Regions from separate parts of the Homo sapiens genome. Here regions 2, 3, 4, 5 and 6 are each linked to region 1. The links come from fine-mapping of genetic effects on gene expression. A gene starts in region 1. Each other region holds a variant in brackets. All regions are shown on one strand. Distances are from middle to middle.

What was found. PIP is the estimated chance that this variant, and not a neighbour inherited with it, causes the effect. A credible set is the group of variants that fine-mapping cannot tell apart.
Region 2: its variant is the best candidate, but not a certain one, in a credible set for the expression of ACSL6 in whole blood (INTERVAL, PIP 0.50).
Region 3: its variant is the best candidate, but not a certain one, in a credible set for the expression of ACSL6 in whole blood (TOPMed, PIP 0.65).
Region 4: its variant is the best candidate, but not a certain one, in a credible set for the expression of ACSL6 in esophagus muscle (GTEx, PIP 0.77).
Region 5: its variant is the best candidate, but not a certain one, in a credible set for the expression of ACSL6 in sigmoid colon (GTEx, PIP 0.57).
Region 6: its variant is the best candidate, but not a certain one, in a credible set for the expression of ACSL6 in whole blood (TOPMed, PIP 0.81).

Annotation. Positions count from the first base shown.
Region 1 is chr5:132,009,583-132,013,671 of GRCh38, reverse strand. It overlaps ACSL6 (acyl-CoA synthetase long chain family member 6), which reads left to right and starts at 2,014. Exons shown (of 21, transcript NM_001009185.3): 1 at 2,014-2,167. The coding sequence starts at 2,119. It overlaps LOC124901062 (a long non-coding RNA gene), which reads right to left and starts at 2,216. Exons shown (of 2, transcript XR_007058933.1): 1 at 2,127-2,216.
Region 2 is chr5:131,603,922-131,608,010 of GRCh38, reverse strand. RAPGEF6 (Rap guanine nucleotide exchange factor 6) reads left to right here. Exons shown (of 28, transcript NM_016340.6): 2 at 3,318-3,388. Among named protein-coding and RNA genes, the nearest start is that of RAPGEF6, 29 kb to the left of the region's middle. The variant T/A (reference allele first, on the strand shown) is at 2,202.
Region 3 is chr5:131,568,873-131,572,961 of GRCh38, reverse strand. The region is part of intron 4 of RAPGEF6 (Rap guanine nucleotide exchange factor 6); the gene reads left to right. Among named protein-coding and RNA genes, the nearest start is that of RAPGEF6, 64 kb to the left of the region's middle. The variant C/A (reference allele first, on the strand shown) is at 1,629.
Region 4 is chr5:131,904,343-131,908,431 of GRCh38, reverse strand. All of the region lies in intron 8 of MEIKIN (meiotic kinetochore factor), which reads left to right. Among named protein-coding and RNA genes, the nearest start is that of MEIKIN, 39 kb to the left of the region's middle. The variant A/TA (reference allele first, on the strand shown) is at 1,893.
Region 5 is chr5:131,594,004-131,598,092 of GRCh38, reverse strand. All of the region lies in intron 3 of RAPGEF6 (Rap guanine nucleotide exchange factor 6), which reads left to right. Among named protein-coding and RNA genes, the nearest start is that of RAPGEF6, 39 kb to the left of the region's middle. The variant C/TTGTC (reference allele first, on the strand shown) is at 2,249.
Region 6 is chr5:131,553,366-131,557,454 of GRCh38, reverse strand. All of the region lies in intron 5 of RAPGEF6 (Rap guanine nucleotide exchange factor 6), which reads left to right. Among named protein-coding and RNA genes, the nearest start is that of RAPGEF6, 80 kb to the left of the region's middle. The variant G/A (reference allele first, on the strand shown) is at 2,047.

The DNA.
Region 1 (4,089 bases):
GGAAAACAGAAAAATACTTGGCTAAGCTAGAATCAGTCACAGCTCCAGTACTGGTTTTTGAATTAAAATATTCACAAGTAGCAGAGACATCTGTAGGGAGAGTAACGGGATGCGACATCCTGCTGGAGGCCAAGCTAAATGTGTCCCATGACATCACTCTGAAGAGGAGGCTGCCAGAGCCGCATAGGGCCCGGAGTGCTCCTGCAGCTGAGTGCCGCAGAGGCCTGAGGCTTGCAGCCTGGCTCCTGGCCCCCTGCTCTGTGAAGAAATGCTCTGTTGAACCACTGGCCTATGGGGAAATTACCTGACCACCTCCCTAGACCAATCTGGTCTGGGGAGATATGTTCTTTCTGCCCAGGCTTCTGGTTCCCCTGGGTCTCCTCTTCAGTACTAGCAGATCTCCAGTTACTCTGCTGCCAGTGGGAGTGTATGGGTGGGGTGGGGGGATTCTCAAAGCCATGTTACTTGCTGGGAGGAGTCCTGCCATACAGCCTCTGTCACACCCTCTTGGAGGAGCCCTGCCAAGCTTGAGATCCCAGCAAAGTCCCTGCCAGGCTGTGGCTGAGTTCAAGCTGGAGCAGCTCTCCCAGGAGTCCAGATCCTATGATGGAGAAGGTGTAGGATCCTATTGTAAAGATTGGAAGTGACTCAGAGGCACACATCTGCACACTTGCACCACTACAAGGTGCACACAGGCCTGGGCACACACATGCCATGTACTCGTACTACAGATACAGGCCCCCCCACACACCCAGCTGCTGAGCTGTGAGCCCACATGCACTCATGGCTGATGGTCTCTGGTGGGCCTGAAGAGATCTCATGCTCTTCCACTCTCTGCTTCCTGACTTCTGCTCTCTGGTTTTCTATCCTCTTCTTTCTGGGCTGTGGCTCAGCCAGCTCCTGGCCTGGGAGGGCTGCGTATAGAGAAGGCCCGGCTGCCTGAGCGCTGTCCTCGGTGCTGGAGTCCTGGTGGGCTCTGCATGCTTGAGGAAAACAAGCAAGGGCATTGGGAAGAGGTGATCTTGCTTGGAGGTGCAGATGTTCATGGGGTGCCCACCAGGATGCCTACCCTTATTATTTCAGAAAATGTGCAACTGGGCTTCCTCCTTTCAATGGCAGACACTGCAACAGGTGTCCAAGCCCTCAGCCCAGCAGTGTGGGCATCTGTGGCTGTGTGTGGCTATATGGCCATTTATTGTGGCTATGAGGGGCTTCTTGAGACCTCGTGTGCCACATACAGTTGTGTACGAAGATCATGATTTCCTCATGAGACACCTGTGATTCCATGTGGCTGCCTGTGACCATGTTACTACTGGTGAACACATATGGCAGCCTGTGATCACACTGAGTCTCCTGTGACCTTGCGTAGCCTCAGACCTGAACTCGTGCGTCCCCAGATGATCTGGGCACTATCTGGTCTAGCTGCCTGATTTGTCAGAGCCTAGGTGAACACTTGCCACTCCCTCCCCTCACTGGTTTGCAGAGGTGGCACCCGGAGGCTCCCCATGTCTGCAAACTCGGGTCCTAGGGGGCGTTGGTGTCAGCGGGCAACAGCCCACAGGAGTGTGCACCTCCTAGGACAGGTAACCGCGACCCGGCTGCCATTCGAGCCTGCCCAGCCATAAAACCCAGGCTGCGAGTCGCGCGGGGGCAGGGTCGCGTGTTGATGGGGTGGGTGGCGGCGGGGTGGGCTCAATGTCACGCTCTGGCGCTCGTCGCCCGTGCTCCCCCTTCCAGCCGGTTTCCGCAGAATGCCAGGTACTGACGTTGGAGAGCGGGGCCGGAGAGGGCTGGTTCGCTCTGCGGCCGGGCCCCTCCCCCGCCCGGGAGCTTGGCGGTTCCGACACCGCGGTCAGTGCGGGGCAAGCCCCAGACCCGGCCGGCCAGGCTGCAGGGCAGGGAGTAAGGCTCGGTTGCGAGTGCGCGCCGCGCCCTCCCCCTTGAGCCGTCTCCGCAGCGGCGCGGGGAGGCGGGAGCTGCGGGGCCGGAGGGCGGGGGCTAAAAATACCCGGCAGCGGCGGCGGCGGCGCGGCTACTGCTGGGGCTGCTGGGCTGCGGGGCTGCGGGGCTGCGGGTCGGGGAGGCCGGGCCGGGCCGGGCCGGGCCCCGCTGACCGCCATGCTGACCTTCTTCCTCGTGTCGGGGGGCTCCCTCTGGCTATTCGTAGGTAAGTGCCCGTCCTGTCCGCGTCCCGGACTCCCATCTCCCGCAGGCTATGAGGTCTTCGCCCGAGGTGGAGGTGTTACATCTCCGCGGCCGCCGAGCCCCCATCCCCTGCTGCTGAGCTGTCCCGTCAAGGTCCCCAGGGCCGCCTAAGTACACCCTCCGCCCCCAGTTCTCGCGGGCTCCGGGCCGGGTTTGGGGAGCACCTGGGTCTGCGGAGGGAGATATAGGGCTTGCTCTCTGCGACCCCACCACAAACCCCCGCCGAGTTCTTGCGTCCCCCTTCCCTGATGGCAAGGACCATCCGCGGATCAGATTAGGCCCTGAGCCAAGGCCAGGAACAGACATTGCGTCCTTGTCCATCTCCTGGGACCAGAAACCGAGGGTGTTGGTCCCCGAGGTCCCACAGCAGGTCAGCTATGTAACCCGGACTGACCTAGGCTTCCTGATCCCGGCGAGGGGCTTCCTCACGACCCCTCCCTGCCCGTCCTTCAGCCAGAGTACAAGATTTCTGTAAGGTAGGGTTCACCTGGCTCCTCTGCTCTGCCCAGGGCTGCTGTGTCTCCACTGTTTCCAGACCCCTCCCCTCCACCTCACAGGAGTCAGCTTCACCACTGCACTTCTTAGGCGGCTACAAGGACCCCTGCTCGATCCCGCCTCCGCGCTTACCTCCCTCAACCCCCCATACACCCACACCTGGAGTCTCACCACAGGCCCTTTTATCTGCCAGTTCTACCACCTGCACCGGCTACTTCCCCTCTCTGAGCCTGGGGTCCTCCAGAGTATAATACCACTAAAGGATCTCCACCTCCACCCCAACCCCCATGTGCAGATTCAGCCTGATAATTTGTGTGCAGTGCTTGATCCTTAAATTGGCCTTAAACCTGTCCTAGGCCACAGCAAATGCTCTATGAATGTTAGTGTTTATTATTATCTCACATTCAAACAGCACCATCAGAAGTGGTAATAAAGCTTTTTCTGAGCCAAGGAAGGGGAGGAAGTTGACCCTCTTGAAATCTTTACCTGAGGCTTTGTACGTGTTATTTAATATTCATGGAAAACCCTAGGAGGTCGGTGGCACCATCCCTTTTTTTACTGAGTTCAGAGGTCAATTGACTTGCCTAGTGTCACATGGATATTTGGCAGACTGGGATTCCATTCGAGGTTTTAATTGATCAACCAATGCTAAGTGCTTGGCTGGATCAGGCCTGAACCTGGAGGGTTGGTGGGCCTAGTAATCACTTCCTTCACCCCCACCATTTCCTTAAGTTAGGCCACAGGGACACTTCCCCTGAGCTGGGAGAGTGAGTGAAGCCTCCCTAATCCCCTCAGCTCCCTAAGCTCCTTCTGTCTGCCAGTGTCTGTGACTGGCTGTGCAGGGGCACTCTGGTCCTGAGGCACATCCAGCAGACAAGGGCAGGGCTAGAGCTGGGGTTGGAGGTAAAGGGCAAGGATAATTAAAATAATGGTGATGGTGGTCGTAACAGCCACCATTTAATGCCTGAGTGATGGATGGTCTCAGAGCCTCTCCCCACTGCCAGGACCCCTTTGCCCTACCCTCAGGAGGCCCCACCCAACCATGGGTCCAAGGTCAGCTCTCTGAAGACTTGATCTTCTGTGGCTGCAGGGAGGTGTCTAGGGGCTGCAAGACCACTTGTGACCGGGGTCATCAGCAGCCTGTGAGAAAAAGTCCCTCACCCTGTGGGGTCCTTGTCTGTGAGCAGGGTTAGCTGGCACTGACTCAAAGTGGAGTCCTGTTTCCTTGTGGAGCATTTCCTAAAGTGGTCAGCTCCCTCCTCTAATGGGAAACTGGGGAATCTGCCTCACTGAGAGACTATACAGGGCCTCAGAACCGTCAAGCAGGAGCGATTCTTGGGGCAGGTAGTGGCTGCTTCCACAGAGGCCGAGCTTCCCAATGCAAAAAGC
Region 2 (4,089 bases), 410 kb after region 1:
TTCAGGACTACTACAATGATTTTTTCAGGTGGATCTTTACTTCACTTTAGATATTTCCGGATGTCCTATCTTATGAAAAACGTTTTATATATTTGTCTTTTTTGTTGTTGTTTTTAGTTGTTTTAGGTGAAGAGTAAGTCTAGTTTCTTTTATTTTATCTTGACCTAAAGCCAAAGTCACTTCGACATTGCAGGAGGTGTCCTGACGTGCCCCCAACCACTGTATCCCGAAAAACTTCACTGAAATGGCATATCTTTTGAGTCTTCATAGTGTTTATCTCCCATTTTCTGGAGCCGCATGTGTGTTACCAAGGACTCTAAGGGTACCAGTCACCTCTAGCCTATTCTTTTATTCATTCTGTCCAATCAGCATGATGTAATATATGTAAATAGATCAGGAGGTTTAGATGTCTGTCCCCCACCCAACCCCCACTGACTGTGTTATGACAGAGAGCGGAAGAGTTAAGAGTCCTAAGATAAAACTGTAAGTTAATATTGCCTTGCATGGATGCAGATTTTTTTCTGATCTTCTAATTGGAATGGAAAGTAAAGTAATGGAAAGTAACACCACATCAGTATTTGAGGCTTAATCAGCTTCAGCAGCAATATTATGGCTGAGACTGCAGGCTGTGATTAGGGCTAGAATTTGGTTCATTCTGTGGTAGTCTGCACAGTCATTTTTTAGGATCTGTCTGCTTTCTCCATAAATTAAATAGAATACAATAGAAACTATTACCTCTGCGTACTTCTGAGTCTTTACTGGTGGCACTAGTCTTTATTCTGTGCCCCTCTGGAAGAAATAGTCTTTTATTTACTGTCTTGTTCTGGGGAATGGGGCAGAGGTTTCCACTTGGCTTTTTCCATTGTGACGGCTTTTACCACACAGGTCATGGACCCATTATTTAGGGTATTCTAACTGCCAAGTATATAAATTCTAATTATAAACTGAGGGAGTGGGGAATGACCATTATTAGGTGGATCTGCAGACTCAGTGGACCCACTGTGAGCCACACTTTTGCCATGACTCTCTTTATTACCTACATTCAGCAGGTTCTGGCTGAGTGGTTGGTGCTTTTACCCCGTAGAGCCTCAATTGGGATCATTCTTTTAGTTCCATTCAATTGGTAGCTCTAAGCTGCTCTAGGAAGGCATAACTTACATATCTAGTACCTTGGTGTTATTCCATGTGGCCTTTCTGCCTCCCTAAGGCTAGCTGGAGCTTCCTCACAACATTAGTGGTCTCAGGGTGCTTGAATCTTTTATACAACCTCACTTCTATCGTATTCTTTTGGTCAGAACAAGTCACAGAGCCAACCCACATCTGTGGGGAGGGCACATAGATTCCAGGTTTTGATGGGTAACTGGCAAGACTGCATTGCAAAAGAGCATATGGGATAAGAAATACCTCTGTGGCCATCTTTGGAAATACAGTTTACCATATCAGTGCTTCATCTGCTATCTGCTAAAATTTGGTAGACCTTTCTTTTAACCTATTCAAATCTTTATTTTTATATACTTAAATATCTTTTTCACTGTTACTTTAGTAAGGATTTAGCAGAAATAAATGTGGTTGTTCAATTCACTGTGGTTAATTGACAGTTGTTATCTTTGGAATTAGAGATTATTGCCTTTTTTTTTTTTTTTTTTCCCTTGAGATGGAGTCTCAATCGCCTAGACTGGAGTGCAGTGGTGCGATCTCGGCTCACTGCAACTTCTTCCCAGGCTCAAGCCATCCCTCACACCTCAGCTTCCTAAGTAGCTGGGACTACAGATGTGTACCACAAGCCTGGCTAATTTTTTTAAATTATTTTTTGTAGAGGCAAGTTTCACCATGTTGCCCAGGCTGGTCTCTAACTCCTGGGCTCAAGTGATCCACCCACCTTGGCCTCATACAGTGCTGGGATTACAGGCGAGAGCCACTGTGCTCAGCTTGATGCTTTTCTTTTCTTTTCTTTTTCTTTTTTTTTTTTTTTTTTTTTTTTGAGATGGAGTCTCACTCTGTCACCCAGGCTAGAGTGCAGTGGCACAATCTCAGCTCACTGCAAGCTCCGCCTGCCGGGTTCACGCCATTCTCCTGCCTTAGCCTCCCGAGTAGCTGGGACTACAGGCACCTGCCACCATACCCGGCTAATTTTTTGTATTTTTAGTAGAGATGGAGTTTCACTGTGTTAGCCAGGTTGGTCTTGATCTCCTGACCTCATG[T/A]TCCGCCCGCCTCGACCTCCCAAAGTGTTGGGATTACAGGCGTGAGCCACCGTGACCAGCCTAGCTTGCTGCTTTTCTTAATGGCTCCGTGTTGTCTTATTAACCTACTAGAAAACAAGTTGTCTTTAGTTTCTCCCCCAGTACCCCCACTACTATCTGATAATTTTCTTGGCCAGTTGTATATCAGAGTGGGAAGGCAGTGTTTGGAAGTAGTTTGCCCTGGTATAAAGGCATTATTCCTCATAGGAAATAGGAAGTATGTTTTTTATAGCGAATTTAAGCTTGTCTGCTTTTTATTTTTTATTTATTTATTTTTTATTATACTTTAAGTTTTAGGGTACATATGCACAACGTGCAGGTTAGTTACATATGTATACATGTGCCATGTTGGTGTGCTGCACCCATCAGCTCGTAGCTTGTCTGCTTTTAATCTTAAATGACATCAGTGGTACAATACTATTTGCTGTTAGGGATCTATAGACTCTTTCCACTTTCTTCTGCTATGCCACTGCTCTTAGTTGAGGTTATACTATGTCATCTTGAGGTTTTTGTTGTTGTTGTTGTTTTAATGCCTAGTTATCTGGGTGAGGAATAGAGAAAGATGTTCTACCTCTTTCACAGAGTGAACAATAGGATTGTACCATTGGAAATCTTTTTTATTTAGTGGTAGATTATGTCATTTTGAGTCTCTTTAGAAAGAAATTCTTTAGAAAGTCATATTTTAAGAGGAATATTGATAAACTGGGTCATCTCTAGAGATGTCAGCCAGGATATTGGATATCAAATATTTGGAGGCCACTAAAGAAGGAAAGTTTACATCTGCTTAGAAGTGAAATAATGAATTAATATACTTTCATATAAAATAATGAATTTGGGGTTCTGGCATTGTTTGAATGAATAGAGGCCATTGGTCACGTTGAAGAGGAGTTCCTTTGAGAGCTGAGGGATCTCTTCTCTGCCTTTTCAAATCTTTTATGATTCAGAGGTTTTATGATTTTTCCATAGTTAACTGCTTTGCCATAAGTGGTTGTTTGCTTAAAATCAGAATTGTGGGGTGCCTTATATTTTAAACAGCATATTTGAAAAATAATCTAATTTTTTTCTTCTGTTCCACAGGACTTAAATACTATTTATTCTTATCTTCATGGAATGGAAATATTATCAAATCTCAGGGAACATCAGCTTAGGTAAGTGTCGTTCTGTATTTAAGAGCACACGCTGTATAGCCATTCATTCATTTATTCACCAAATATTTGTTAAGCACCTTTATATTCCTTATTGTTTTAAGCCCTTGGTATATGCATTATAGATTAGATCCCTGGTTTCCTGGAGTTTATATTTTGGTAGGGGTGATTTTGGAGTTGGGGAAAAACACTGACAATAAAAACTGAATTTGTTTTTCTTATTCAGTTTTTCTTAGCCATGGGACCTTAAGTCAGAACTAACCTTTAACTGTGGTTTTGTCTTCAATAAAATAGGGGTAATGATAGTATCTTTGTTGAAGTATTTCAAGGATTAAATGAAAATAAGTACCTAAAGCAAAACACAGTGTTGAGGTTGTGCTAGTTAGTAAAGACAAAACTCCTGTTATCTTTTTGTAGTTTGTGTTGATATTTATTATGCCAAATGCTTCAGCTGGGTATGGTATGTTGTATTATAGTGTTGTATTATACAAGTGAAAGGAGCAGGAATCTTGATTTGGCCTAAGCTCCTGTGGAGAAAACCCATAAACTTTCTGAACCTTGTTTTTTTCTTCTGAAAAATGGGCTGGCTATCTGTCCTGGTTATCATATATCATTATGATTATATTTATAAAAACACTTTCGAGTGCTATAAAACACTTAACTATATAATATTTTAATTAAACATGTGTTCCCACCACGAACAG
Region 3 (4,089 bases), 440 kb after region 1:
CCTCAGACCATTTGCGCAATTTTTGACAAAAATTATCTAGGTTTTGTAAGAAGACAAATCGAAAGTGCCATTTCTCTGGCCACTTGGAACTATTGTCGAGTTTGTATTGGGGCCAAGTGGTATTACAGAAGAAAATAAGACATTTAGGTTTTAGGTCAGGTGTTAGTTGAAGGGGTTTTAGGTTTTTAAGAACACAGGCTAAGGGGGAAGAGGGAGGAATGGATGGCGGAAGGTTGCCCATAGTGGAGAAGGTAAATTTAAGGACGAAGGTAGAGACATGGAGAAATGGAGATGGGCAGCTACCAGGCTTCCAGTAGGCGTCCCTGACTGAGTCTTGGGCTGTAATGTGGGTGAGCAGCCAAAGCAGGCATGATCAGCCAAAGCAGGCATCTCCACAGTTGACCTGCCACCAAGGGAATGTGGGTGAATGATCAAGGCAGGCGTCCCTGTGGTGATCAGACACCAAGGGAAGATGTGTCTTCCCAAGTCAGTAACCGACGTCAGAGTTTTTAAATGCTCAGATAAAGTGTGTCTCCTTTTTGTCTCTACCTGGAAGGGAGAGAAACTGAAATTGAAAGGAGAGAGATTGAAGGGAGGCGAGAGAGGTTAGGTAGAGAGCGAAAAAACCGCTTACCCGAGTGTGAAGAACCGCTTACCGATTTGAAATTGGTGAGATGGTCCTTGGACTGGCTGGTCTGATGACCCAGGGTCATAGGTGGATCTCCTCACGGAGGGAGCGTGAGGACAGGGGACCGGTCTCCCGAAGGAGTTCCCCTGTCCTGGGTGTTCGGCACCAAATGTTACGCACGTCCATATAAGTGACCACCTGAGCAGGCTTAGTTTGAGCAACAAAGCTGTTTATTCACTTGGGTTCAAGTGGGCTGAGTCCAAGAAAGGAGTCAGTGAAAGGTGGTGGGATTATCATAGGTTCTTATAGGTTTGAGATAGGCGGTGGTGTTAGGAGCAATTTTTTGCAGGCAGGGGATGGATATTACAAAGTACATTCTCAAGGGCTGGGAGGATGTTACAAAGTAACATTCACAAGGGCGGGGAGGAATGTTACAAAGTACATTCACAAGGGTACATTATCACAGGCTGGGGGCGGTGGTGGCGGGAATGTCACGATGGCTTGACCATGGTGTGGCCAGCTCAGAGGACTTACCAGTATGGATCCTCCAACTTCGTAAAAATTGTTTTGGTTATTTGTTTTCATATGTTCTTTGCAGTTCCGTATGATTTCTAGCATCAGTTTGTTAATTAAAAACAAAAACACCTGCTGAGGTTTTGATTGGGAATGCACTGAATCTATAAACCAGTTTAGGGAGAAGTGAACATCTTAATAGTTGATTCTTTTAAACCATGAATGAGGTACATCACTCCATTTATTTAGGTCTTTAATTTCTCTCAATGATGTTTTGCAGTTTTCAGTGTAGAGATATTGTATATGCTGATCTTACATCTTGCAACCTTATTAAATCACTTATTCTAATTGCTGTTTTATATTTTTTTAGTATTTTTGTACGTAAGTGATCTTGTCATCTGTGAATAAACAGCTTCATTTCTTATTTTTGAATAAGAATTTTTGAATTCAGATCTTATTTTGATCTGAATGCCTTTTATTTCTTTTT[C/A]CTTGTTGTACTAGGGGAAAACTATAGTACATTGTTGTGACAGAGTGGAGCAAACATCCTTGTTGTCAATCTATTAATAAAAAGTAGTTGGGGGCGGGGCATGGTGGCTTACACCTGTAATCGCAGCATTTTGGGAGGCCAAGGCGGGTGGATCACCTGAAGTTGGGAGTTTGAGACCAACCTGGCCAACGTGGTGAAATCCTGGCTCTACTAAAAATACAAAAATTAACCCGGTGTGGTGGCATGTACCCAAGCCACCTACTTGGGAGGCTGAGGCACGAGAATTGCTTGAACCTGGGAGGCGGAGGTTGCAGTGAGTGGAGATTGCGCCACTGCATTCCAGCCTGGATGACAGAACCAGACTCCCTCTCAAAAAAAAAAAAAAAAAAAAGTAGTTGGGGATGAAGACGTGGGGAGTTGGAAGCGTTCATTCAGTTTTTCACCAACTGTAATCTTAGCTCTAAATTTTTCATAGATGACCTTTATCTGGTTGCCCCTCTGTAATCTCTACTTTCCACACCTTCTTCATCAGACAACCACTGTTTGGCTTTCTGGAGAGAGAGTATTTTACATATAGAGAGAGTATTTTACTTAAAATTTAATTTTCTGCTATTTTATGTAAATGGAATATGTTGTATAGTTTTTTAATCTAGTTTTTTTCATTTAGCATAATGTTTTTATAGCTCACCCATGTTTTAGCACATATCAATTCTAGCATGTCCATTTTTTAAATTGTTGATACTGCATTTTGTCTATCCATTCAGAAGATTTTAAAAATTGAAAATTTTAGTTTTAATTTGGGGCTGTCACAAAAATGCTTCTATCAAAATTTACATAAAAGTCTTTATATGGCCATGTGTTTTCACTTCTTTATTATAGATATGCAGGAGTAGAATTGCTGTGTTATGTAAGTACATGTTTAACTTCTTGGGAAAAGACCAAATTGTTTATAAAATGACTGTACCATTTTACATTCTGACCACCACTTGGTATTGACAGTCTTTTATATTATTTGCCATTCTGGTGTATATTTAACAGTGTCTTACTGTGATGTTAATTTGTAGTTCAGTAGTGATGAGTGATGTAGGGGGTCTTTTTATGTGCTTACTAGACATTCCTGTATCTTCTTTGGTGAAATGTCTATTCAGACATTTTCTCCATTTTTAAATTGTACTGTCTTATCAAATTGTAAGAATGTATCTATTTTGGATCCAAGTTCTATGTCATATATGTAGTTTTCATATAATTTCTCTCAGTCTCTGGCTTTTTTTTTTTTTTTTTTTTTTTTTTTTGAGACAGAGTCTTGCTCTGCTCCGCAGGTTGGAGTACAGTGGTGTGATCTCAGCTCACTGCAACCTCTGCCTCCCGGGGTCAAGCAATTCTCCTGCCTCAGCCTCCCAAGTAGCTGGGATTGCAAATGCCCACTACTACGCCTGGCTAATTTTTCTATTTTTAGTAGAGATGGGGGTTGCACCACGTTGGCCAGGCTGGCCTCAAACTCCTGACCTCAAGTGATCTGCCCACCTCAGCCTCCCAAAGTGCTGGGATTACAGGCGTGTGCCACCGTGCCCAGCCAGTCTGTGACTTCTTAATAGTGTCTTTTGAAGCATAAAACTTTAATATTGATGATATCTACTTTAAGGTTTATTTTTGAGAATAGAGCTTTTGGTGTCATAGCTAAGAAATCTTCAACCTCACGATTATTTCATCTTACAGTTTTTTCTAAAAGTTTTAAAATTTAGTTCTTACATTTTGGTCTGTGATCCATTGTGAGTTAATTTTTTGTTTTGTTTGTATATATATATTTTTGCATATGGATATTTGCATATTCATTTTACCTAGCATGGTTTATTGAAAAGGCTGTTTTTTTCCCCATTGAATTGCCTTGGTACCTTTGTTGAAAATCAGTTAACCATAAATATGTGTGTTTGTTTTCTGTACCATTTGTTCTGTCTCCTTTAACTATTTTTCTGTCTTGGTACCAATCCTGACTGTCTTGATTATTGTAGCTTTATTGTAACTTCAAATCCAGTAAGTCTTACAACTTTGTTCGTTTTTATAATGGCTTTGGCTATTTTAGGTTTTTGTATATTCATATACATTTAAGGATTTGCTTGTCAATTTATACCGTAAAGCCTGTTGGGGTTTTGATAGGAAATGATTTGAATCTATAGATTAATTTGGGGAGAATTGCAGTCTTAACTATATTGTGTTTCCAGCCTATGAACATGGCTTGCTTCTGCATATATTTATCTTTTATTTCTTTCAGCAATATTTTGTATTTTTCAGTGTATAAGTCTTACACTTTTGTTAAATCATTTCCAAATATTTTATTCTTCTTAATAGGATTATGAATGGAATTGTATCTTAATTTCATTTTCATATTATTCATTGCTAGTATATAGAAATACAGTTGGTTTTTGCATATTGATCTTATATCCTGTGACCTTGATATAATCTT
Region 4 (4,089 bases), 110 kb after region 1:
TTGAGGTATGTTCCTTCCGTACCTACTGTTTTGAGAATTTTTATCATGAACGGATGTTGAATTTTATCACGATTTTCTAGCATAATTTAAATGATCATATGGTTTTTTTCCTTTATTCTGTTGATATGATGTATCATATTGATTGATTTGCATAGGTTGAACCATCCTTGCGTCCCTGGGGTAAATCTCACTTGGTCTGGAAGAATGATCTGTTTAATATGTTGTTGAATTCAGTTTGCTATTTTGTTGAGGATTTTTACATCAGTATTCTTCAGAGATATTGGCCTATAGTTTTCTTTTTTTGATATGTCTTTGTCTGGTTTTTGTATCAGGGTAATACTGATAGCATTGAATGAGTTTGTCAGTATTCCTTCATCCTCTATTTTTTGGAACAGTTTGAGTAGGATTGGTATTAGTACTTCTTTAAATATTTGGTAGAATTCAACAGTGAAGTCACTAGGTCCTGGAATTTTCTTTACCAGGAGACTTTTTATTATAGCTTCAATCTTGTTACTTGTATTGTCCTGTTCAGGTTTTGGATTTATTTATTTATTTATTTTGAGACGGAGTCTCACTCTGTTGCCCAGGTTGGAGTGCAGTGGCACAATCTCAGCTCACTGCAACCTCTGACTCCCGGGTTCAAGTGACTCTCTTGCCTCAGCCTCCTGAGTAGCTGGGATTACAGGCGCATGCCACCACGCCCGGCTAATTTTTGTATTTTTAGTAGAGATGGGGTTTCACCATGTTGGTCAGGCTGGTCTCGAACTCCTGACTTCGTGATCCGCCCACCTTGGCCTCCCAAAGTGCTGGGATTACAGGCGTGAGCCACCTGCCCGGCTCAAGGTTTTGGGTTGCTTCATGGTTCAGTCATACTAGATTGCATATGTCTACTGGCATGTAGTTGCTCATAGTAGATACTAATGATCCTTTGAATGTCTGCAGTATCAGTTGTAATGTCTCCCTTTTCATCTCTGATTTTATTTAATTGGGTTTTCTCTCTTGTTTCTTAGTCTGGCTACAGGTTTGTCAGTTTTTTTTTTACAAGAAACCAATTTTTTGTTTCATTGCTTTTTTGTATTGTTTTCGAATTCATTTGTTTCTGCTCTGATCTTTTTTTTCTACTAATTTTGGGTTTGGTTTGCTCTTTTTTAGTTCTTTTAGATGCATTGTTAGGTTGTTTATTTGAAGTTTTTATTCTTTTTGATATAAGCATTTGTAACTGTAAATTTCCCTGTTAGTACTGCTTTCACTGTAGCCTGTAGGTTTTGGTATGTTGTATTTCCATTATGATTTGTTTCAAGAATATTTTCAGTTTCCTTCTTAATTCTTCATTGACTCACTAGTCATTCAGGAGCATATTGTTTAATTTTCATGTGTTTGTTAGTTTCCAAAATTCCTCGTTATTTTTTATCTTTTATTTTAGATTCAGGTGTAAACATATCTAATTTGTTATGTAGATAAATTGTGTGTCTGTTACAGTAGTTTGGTGTGCAGATTATTTCTTCATCTATGTAATAAGCATAGTACCTGATAGGTACTTTTTCAATAGTCACCCTCCTCTCACCCTCAAGTAGGCCCCAGTGTCTGTTGTTCCTTCTTTCTGTCCATATATACCCAATGTTTAGGTCCCACTTATAAGTGAGACTGTGCAGTATTTGGTTTTCTGTTCCTGTATTAGTTTGCTTAGAATAATGGCCTCCAGATTTATCTGCGTTACTGCTGAGGACATATTCTTATTCTTTTGTATGACTGCATGGCATTCCATGGTGTATATGTACCACATTTTTTTTCTCTAGTCTACCATTGATGAACATTTAGGTTGATTCCATGTCTTTGCTATTGTGAATAATGCTGTGATAAATATGTGCTTGTATGTGTCTTTATGGTAGAAT[A/TA]AGTTATATTCCTTAGGGTATATACCCAATAATGGGATTGCTGGGTCAAATGGTAGTTCTGTTTTTAGCTGTTCGAGGAATTACCACACTGCTTTCCACAATGGTTGAAATAATTTACACTCCCACTAACAGTATATAAGCATTCTGTTTTCTCTGCAACTTTGTCAGTATCTGTTACTTTTTTACTTTTTAATAATAGTCATTCTGACTAGTGTGAGATGGTATCATTGTGGTTTTGATTTGCATTTCTCTAATGATTAGTGATGTTGAGCATTTTTGCATGTTTGTCGGTCGTGTGTATGTCTTCTTTTGAAGAGTGTCTGTTCATGTCCTTTGCCCACTTTTTAATGGAATGGTTCTTTGCTTATAAATTTGTTTAAATTCCTTATAGATTCTGATATTAGACCTTTGTGAGATGTATAGTTAGCAAATATTTTCTCCCATTCTGTAGATTATTGATTCTGTTGATAGTTTCTTTTGCTGTGCAGAAGCTCTTTAGTTTAATTGGGTCCCATTTGTCATTTTTGCTCTCATAGCAATTTCTTTTGGCGTCATTGTTATGAAGTCTTTGCCATGTCCTTTGTCCAGAGTGGTATTTCCTAGGTTATTTTCCAGGGTTTTGATAGTTTTGAGTCTTAGATATACGTCTTTAATCCATCTTGAGTTAATTTCTGTTTATGGTGTAAGGAAGGGATCTCCAGTTTCAGTCTTCTGCATATGGCTGGCCAGTTATCCCAGCACCATTTATGGAATGGTCCTTTCCCCATTGCTTGTTTTGGTAGATTTGTCAAAGATCTGGTGGTTATGTTTGGGTTCTCTATTTTGTTTCTCTATTGGTCTGTGTGTTTATCCATTTCTTCTAGGTTTTCTAGCTTGTGTGCATAGAGGTGTTTATAATAGTCTCTGAGAGTTTTTTGTATTTCTGTGGGGTCAGTGGTAATGTCTCCTTTGTCATTTCTAATTGTGTTTATTTGGCTCTTCTCTTTCTTTTCTTAATCTAGCTAGTGGTCTATCAGATTAATTCTTTTAGAGAAGTAGCCCCTGATTCATTGATGTTTTGTATGTTTTTTTTCATCTTAGTTTCCTTTAGTCTGATTTTGGTTATTTATTGTCTTCTGGTAGCTTTGGGGTTGATTTGCTCTTGTTTTTCTAGTTCCTCTAGTTGCGGTATTAGGTTGTTAATTTGAGTTATTTCTGACTTTTTGATGTGAGCTTTTAGTGCTATAAACTTCCCTCTTACATTGCTTTGGCTATGTCCCAGAGAGTCTGGTATGTTGTATCTTCTTCCTCATTAGTTTCAAAAAAGTTATTGATTTGTGCCTTAATTTCATTATTTACCCAGAAGTCGTTCAGGAGCAGGTTTTTAAAATTTCCATTTAATTGTATGGGGTTTTTTTCACTTCTTTAAAAATTATACTTTAAGTTCTGGGATACATGTGCAGAACGTGCAGGTTTGTTACATAGGTATACACGTGGTGGTTTGCTGCACCCATCAACCCTTCACCTACATTAGGTATGTCTCCTAATGCTATTCCTCCCCTATCCTCCAACCCCCCGACAGGCCCTGGTGTGTGATGTTCCCCTCCCTGTGTCCATGTGTTCTCATTGTTCAACTTATAAATGAGAACATGTGGTGTTTGGTTTTCTGTTTCTGTGTCAGTTTGCTGAGAATGATGGTTTCCAGCTTCATCCATGTCCCTGCAAAGGACATGAACTCATCATTTTTTATGGCTGCATAGTATTCCATGGTGTATATGTGCCACATTTTCTTAATCCAGCCTATCATTGATGGGCATTTGGGTTGGTTCCAAGTCTTTGCTATTGTGAACAGTGCTGCAATAAGCATACGTGTGCATGTGTCTTTATAGTAGTATGATTTATAATCCTTTGGGTATATACCCAATAATGGGATTGCTGGATCAAATAGTAGTTCTGATTCTAGATCCTTGAGGAATCGCCACACTGTCTTTAATACTTTTACACTATTGGTGGGAGTGTAAATTAGTTCAATAATTGTATGATTTTGAGCAATTTTCTTAGCAGTTATTTCTATTTTTATTGCTCTGTGGTCTGAGAGAGTGGTTGGTATGATTTCATTTCTTTTGAAATTTGCTGAAGATTCTTTTGTACCTGACTTTGTGATCAGTGTTTGCCATGTGCATATAAGGAGAATGTGTATTCTGTTGGTTTGGGGTGG
Region 5 (4,089 bases), 420 kb after region 1:
AACGTAATAAATATAGCAGGTTTTTTTTCTGTTGGTTTTAGGTTATTTGGTCTCATTTCCAGCAATGTTGATACTTTTTTTAACTTTTTAATCGACACATTATAGTTGTGTATATTTATGGAGTACAAGTTGGTATTCCAATACAGTTATGTGTTATATAATATACAAATTAGGGTAGTTAGCATATCCATCACCTCATACATTTAATCATTTTTTGGTGGTGAAAACATTCAAAAGCCTCTCTTCTAGCTATTTTGTAATATACAGTACTTTACTGTTAACCATAATAATCCTACTGTGCAATGGAACACCAGAATTTATTTTTCTTATTTTGTTGTAACTTTGTACCCACTACCCAACCTCTCCTCATCTTTCTCTCCCACCTCCCCACTCCAGTCTCTGGTAACCACAGTTCTACTCCACTTCTATGGTATCAACTTTTTATTTTTTAGATTCCACGTATAAGTGATATTCTGCAGTATTTGCCTCTCTATGTCTGTCTTATTTCACTTAACATAATATCCTCCAGTTCCATCCATATTGCTGCAAATGACAGGATTTCATTCTTTTCATGGCTGAATGATACTCTATTGAGTATATATACCCCATTTTCTTTATCTGTTCATTCATTGTTGGACACTTGGGTTGAGTCTGTATTTTGGCTATTGTAAAATATGGGAGTGCAGATATTTCTGTAACATACTGATTTCATTTCCTTTGGATATGTATCCAGTAGTAGGATTGCAGGATTACCTAGAAGTTCCATTTTTTTTTTTTTTAGTAACCTCCATATTGTTTTCCATAATAACTACTAATTTACGTTCCCACCAACAGTGTATAAGTGTTCCCTTCTCCTGAAATCCTCGCCAACACTTGTTTTCGTCTTTTTGATGGTAGCCATTCTCACTGGAATGAAGTGGTGTCTTGTTGTGATTTGAGTTTGCATTTCCCTGATGATTAGTTTATTTGAATATTTTTTTATATACCTATTGGCTATTTTTATGTCTTTTCAGAAATGTCTGTTGAGCTATTTTGCCCATTTTTAATCAGTTTTTTTTTGCTATTAAGTTTTTTATATATTCTGGATATTAACCCATTGTCAGAGGTATAGTTTGCAATTCTCTCCTATTTCTGTAGGTTGTCTATTCATTTTGTCAGTTGTTTCCTTTGCTGCGCAAAAACTTTTTAGTTTGATGTAATCAGATTTATCTGTTTTTGTTTCTGTTGCCTGTGTTTTGAGGTCTTCGCTTTAAAAATCCTTGCCTAGCACAGTGTTGTATAGCATTTTCCCCTATTTTCTTCCAGTAGATTTCGTGGTTTCAGGTTTCACATTTAAGTCTTTAATCCATTTTGAGTTGATTTTTGTATATAGTGAGAGGTAGGAGTTTAGTCTTATTCTTCTGCAAGGAGATATACATTTTCTAAGTGTCTTTGGCACCTTTTTTGAAAATCAGTTGTCTGTTTAATTCTGGGATATCCATTCTGCTCTATTGGTCTGTTTTTATGTCAGTACCATGCTTTTTTGGTTGCAGTAGCTTTGTAGTATATTTTGAGGTCTATCGATCTGTCCATTGCTGAAAGTAGGGTATTTGCATTCCCTGCTATTACTCTATTATAGTCTGTCTCTCCCTTTATATCTAATGATATTTGCTTTACAAGCTTGGGCACTCCAGTGTTTGGGGTGTGTGTGTTAATATATACTGTAAATATATATATGAGACACAAATATATATTATATAATGATTATATAATATATATTATAAATAATGTAATTGTTATATCTTCCTGTTGAATTGATCCCTTTATCATTATATAATCACCTTTTCTGTCTCTTTTTACAGTTTTTGACTTAAAGTAAGCATGGCTACTCCTGTTTGCTTTGGCTTTCCATTTGCATGGATGTCTTTTTCTATCCTTTAACTTTTTTTTTTTTTTTTATATGATGGAGTCTCGCACTGCTCCCCAGGGTGGAGCACAGTGGTGCGACCTTGGCTCACTGCACCCTCTGCCTCCTGTGTTCAAGCGATTCTTGTGCTTCAGCCTCCCAAGTAGCTGGTATTACAGGCGCGTACCACCACACCCAGCTAATTTTTGTATTTTTTAGTAGAGACAGGGTTTCGCCATGTTGGCCAGGCTGGTCTTGAACTCCTGACCTCAAGTGATCTGCCTGTCTCAGCCTCCCAAAGTGCTAGGATTACAGGCATAAGCCACTGCACCCAACCTCTGTCCCTTAACTTTCAATCTATGT[C/TTGTC]TTTAACAGTGAGGTGAGTCTGTTATACGCAGCATACATTTGGGTTTTATTATCCATTCAGCCATTCTATATCTATTAATTGGAGGAGCTTACCCAGTTACATTCAAGGCTGTTATTTATAGGTAAGGATTTATTCCTGCCTTTGTGTTAATGGTTTTCTGGTTGTTTTATAGATTTTTTTTTCTGTAGCCTTCTTTCTCTCTTGTTCATCTCTGTGGTTTTGTGGCTCACTGTGGTGCTATACTTTGTTTCCTTTCTCTTTCTCCTTTGTGTATCTGCTGTACTTACTTTATGTTTACTATAGAGCTAGCATAAAGACTCTTGTTATAATGCACTATTTTAAGCTGATAGCAAATTAACTTTGGTCTCTGTATTACTCCATTCTCACGCTGTCATAAAGAACTACCTGAGACTGGGTAATTTGTGAAGAAAAGAGGTTTAATTTACTCACAGTTCCACAGGCTTCACAGGAAGCATGAGTGGGAGGTCTTAGGAAACTTACAATCACAGCAGAAGGTGAAGGGGAAACAAGCACTCCTTACCACGGTGAGCAGGAGACAGAGAGAGAATGCGATGGGGGGAAATGCCACACTTAAACCATCAGATCTTGTGGAACTCACTGTCATGAGAACAGCATGGGGGAAAATCTGTCCCCATGATCCAGTCGCCTCCCACCAGGTCCCTCCCCTGACACATGAGGATTACAATTCAACATGAGATTTGAGTGGGGACATAGAGCCAAACCATATTATTCCACCACTGGCCCCTCCCAAATCTCATGTCCTTCTCACATTTGAAAACCAATCATGCCTTCCCAGCAGTCCCCCAAAGTCTTAACTCAATCCAGCATTAACTTAAAAGTCCAAGTCCAAAGTCTCATCTGAGACATGGGAAGTCCCTTCCACCTATGAGCCTGTAAAATCAAAAACAAGTTACTTCCAAAATACAATGGAGATACAGGCATGGGGTAAATGCTCCTGTTCCAAATGGTAGAAATTGGCCAAAATAAAGGGGCTACAGGTCCCATGCTAGTCCGAAACCCAGCAGGGCAGTCATTAAATCTTAAAGCTTCCAAATAACCTCCGTTGACTCCATGTCTCACATCCAGGGCACCCTGAGGCAAGTGGTGGGCTCCCAAGGCCTTGAGCAGCTCTGCCCCTGTGGCTCTGCAGGGTACAGCCCCTGTGGCTACCTTCATGGGCTGGCGTTGAGTGCCTGTGGCTTTTCTAGGCTCCTAGTGCAAACTGTGGTTCTACCATTCTGGGGTCTGAAGGACAATGGCCCCCTTTTCGCAGCTCCACTAGATAGTGCCCCAGTGGGGACTCTGTGTGGGGGCTCCAACCCCACATTTTCCCTCTGCACTGCCCTAGTGGAGGTTCTCCATGAGGGCTCTGCCTCTACAGCACACTTCTTCCTGGACATCCAGGCATTTCCATACATCCTCTGAAATCTGGGCAGAGATTCCCAAACCTCAACTTTTGACCTCTGCGTACCCGCAGGCCCAACACCATGTGGAAGCCGCCAAGGCTTGAGGCTTGCAGCCTCTGATTCAATGGCTTGAGCTATACTGTTGGCCCCTTTTGGCCACACAGTTTTAAACTAGCAAATCTTGTGAGAGCTCACTATCATGAGAACAGCATGCGGTAAATCTGCCCCCAGATGGAGCTGGAGCAGCTGGGATGCAGGGTACCATGTCCTGAGGCTACACAGAGTAGCAGGGTCCTGGGCCCAGCCCATGAATCATTTTTGGTTGGCCTCTGGGCCTGTGATAGGAGAGGCTGCCTTGAAAGACTCTGAAATGCCCTGGAAACATTTTCCCCATTGTGTTGGCTATTAACATT
Region 6 (4,089 bases), 460 kb after region 1:
ATTTATGTCATTTCAACAAGGTCGTTGGATACTCGTTCATACATAAAAATCAATTGTATTTTTCCTTACAAGCAAGTAGAAAATTGAATTTTATAAACGTACCATTTATAAACATCAAAACCATCTATATACATCAGATTAAATCTGAAAAAAGTTGTAGGAGACCTTTACACAGAAAACCTTAAAAAGTTGTTTTTAGATCTTTTTAAATCAGTTGAGACAATATTTTTAAGATACAAATTATCTCAAAATTTGTCTAAAATTTAGTGCAGTCCCCATCATAATCCCAGGATATTTTAAAAATGGGGATAAAGGAATTGATCTGTAACATATGTCACATAAGGGAAGAAGAATATATTTACAAAAACTGTATGAGAAGTACTTAAGCTGGGTGTTGTGACACACGTCTGCAGTCCCAATTATTCCTGTCTGTGAATAGCCACTGCACTCCAGCCTGGGCAACATAGACTCCCGTCTATAAAACCAACAAACAAAACACTTAAGATTAAACTTAACAAATGTGCAGAAATAATGTGTTTAAATACCCCTGAAATAAAAAAATTAAACTTGAACAAAAAAAGAGATACCATGTTCTTAGGTATGGAGTTACCATAGTAAGGATATTACTTTTTGTTAGTTTACCTTATGAATATAATGAAATCCCAGTGAAATATGCCATCAAGTATAGTGTTTATTTTGTGTTTTGCATTTTGTGCCATTTAAAAGAATAAAAAAAGCAAGGAGAACTAGAAGAAACCTGAGAAAGAAGAGCAATTTTAGGGGAGCCATGTAAATCTTTTTATGTACTAAAAGCAATTCAAAAGGAGAAAAAATTTACTCTTCCCCCCAAAAAACAAAATAAGTGATTTTAATATATGTAAAATTTTGGTATAATTCCATGAAGAATTATTATTTCTGGTGACTTTAAGACACAGTATTTTAACTGTACATTCCTAATGTAGTATGTCTCATTGTTGGTGTTACTAGGAGCCAGTTGTCTCATTGTTGGTGTTACTAGTGGTCTTTTCTTCTTCTTATTATTATTTTTGAGACAGAGTCTTGATCTGTTGCCCAGGCTGGAGTGCAGTGGCATGATCTCGGCTCACTGCAACCTCAGCCTCCCGAGTAGCTGAGATTACAGGCACACACCACCACTCCCAGCTAATTTTTGTATTTTTAGTAGAGATGAGTTTCACCATGTTGGTCAGGCTAGCCTCAAACTCCTGACCTCAGGTGATCCACCCACCTCGGCCTCCCGAAGTGCTGGGATTACAGGCGTGAGCCACTGAGCCCAGCCTACTAGTGGTCTTTTTACAGTTTTCCATACAGTCCTGCACTGCTGGTTATGACTGATCACATGTATGACAATGGTTCCATAAAATTATAATACTGTATTTTTACTGTACCTTTTCTGTGTTTCGATACACAGATACTTAACATTGTGTTATAATTGCCTATGGTGTTCAGTACAGTAACATGCTTTACAGGTTGGTAGCTTACGACCAATAGGCCATACTATATAGCCTAGATAAGTAGTAGGCTATACTGTCTATGTGTAAGTGCACTCTATGATGTTCACACAATGACGAAATTGCCTAACAACTAGTTTCTCAGAACGTATCCTTATCGTTAAGTGCACATGGCTGTATATGTGTGTATATAGACGCACGTTATATGTAACTAATTATAATTAATTTAACATAACACATATACATAAATCTATACATATATAAATATTAGTATCCAAGATGATGTAACCAGGATGTTAGTGGTAATGTTGATTTTGTTAATTTAAAGCAATTATATATGTATAGGTAATATTTATGTGTATATTATGAAAAATTCTGTATGATACATTTAATTGGAAATAATTGAAATTTATAATTATAGTTAATATAACTAATAGATGCATAAATAAATGTCATTAGTAATCAAGATTTTTATTTTAGCATAAGAGTTGTGTAAAATTAAAGATGTTAAGAAAAACTCCAGTCTAAAATGTCAGTAGGAAATGTCAGCATTGACACGACTATTTTTTTCTTAAAA[G/A]TATTTACCAAATTATTTCACCTTAAGAAAAAAAATGTGTTTCCTAGGGTTGTTCATTGCAAAAGTTTAGAAGCAGCGATATCCAAGTAGTTAAAGCATTCCTAGTGGTTATAGAGCTCAGATTTTGATGATAATGAGTAGGTACCATTTCCCCTCTAAAAGGATAACAAACCTTCGTTAAGTTAATGATTTATAGCAGATGTGGATACCAAGAAATTTATTAGATTGGGATTTCCTTCACTAGGAAGCAGAGAAATATTTAAAATTATTGGGCTTCTCTCAAAAATATCAGGATTCTGTGAACCTTAATACTTGGGGTCTGTTTCTTCTTTTTCTATATTTGACATGAGATTCTTTTTTACCTGGAAAGACTTTTCTATTTGTATTCATTGTGATTGCTGATAGGTTTGAATTTACTTTCACCACATTATGTGCTTTTTATTTGTTCTTGTTTTTTCCCCTCTTTTTTTTATTTTCCCTCCTTTATTTTAAGTTCTTTTTTCCTTCCTCTCCTCCCCACCATATTCTTGTAGAAATGGTGTTTGGTCTCTTCTTTTAGTGCTAATTCTGACTATTTTTAAATTCCTACTTAGGCCAGGCACAGTGGCTCCCTCCTGTAATCCCAGCACTTCGGGAGGCCAAGGCGGGTGGATCACCTGAGATCAGGAGTGCGAGACCAGCCTGGCCAACATGGTGAAACCCCGTCTCTACTGAAAATACAAAAATTAGCCAGGTGTGGTAGGCGCCTCTAATCCCAGCTACTTGGGAGGCTGAGGCTGGAGAATCACTTGAACCCGGGAGGTGGAGGTTGCAGCGAGCCAAGATTGTGCCACTGCACTCCAGCCTGGGCAACAGGGTGAGATTATGTCTCAAAAAAAGAAAACCTATTTAAAAACACCTGAGGCTAATAAGTAGCTAAACTGATAAGAATTTAATGCTAGTATCCAGATGTAATTCCTATTGTCCAGTATTTTAGCTTTATGTATTCTGTAAATCATTATTTATTCCTATTTAACCACGTATTTAATATTTTTTGCTTTTAGTTCTTTCTTATATATGAGACCGTCCTAATAGTAACACTTGTATTATGTTTAAAGTACACCCATTAAAAATTCTTTCCTGAAGATCTTCTGTTAAGTCTCTCAGGTATTTTTTCTTTTTTGTCTGAAAATAACTTTATTTTTCTTCATTCTTGGAGGATTGTTTTGCCATTAATACAACTTTAGGAGGAGAATTATTTTTATTAACACAATTAATACATTCTATTTTTTTACATTCATCGTATTTTGAGGAGTCAGACATTAATTGCCTTCCTGATCTCTTTTTTCTTTCTGGCTGCATTAAAAGTCTTCTGTTTATATTTTCTCTGTAATTTGGTATCGTAGTTTTTCATTATCCTCTTTTGGATTTTTTGGACTGCTTTGGGCATCAAAAATTCTTTTTTTCCTTAAATATTGTCTTGTTCTATCATCTTCTTGACATTTTTTTTTTCAACCTTTCCTCTTAGCTTTCTTATTTTTTACCTCTTCATGATGACTTTGTGCTGTATGTTGAGTAAGTCTTCTGGATTTATCTTCCCAGTTTACTAACTCCCTTTTTAGTTGCATCTTAATATACCATTCAGTTCCTTCATTTTTCTTATTTAACTCTTTTCCTCTTTCTCTTTGGTAATTTTATTGTCCTATGTTTAATTTCCTTGATCTTAACTCAGTTGTGTTGAGTCTGCCAATGAGCATGTCAGAGACATTCCTCATCTCTATTACTACGTCTTTTGTTTCTAACATTTTCATTTTTATTTTATATTTTTATTTTGTCTGCTAAAATTATCAATCTGTGTGTGTTGTCTATACCTTTTCCAGTGAACCTATAACATGTTTAATCATAGTTGATTGAAGTTCTCTCTCTGGTAGTTCCAGCATCTGGATCCACTCTAATTCTTGTAGACTGCTCTGTTGATTGCTTTGTCTCTTGGTTTTTGTTTTTTGTTTTGTTTTACCTTTCCTTTTTTATGTGAGTTATAATTTTGGATTTAATGTTGGGCAT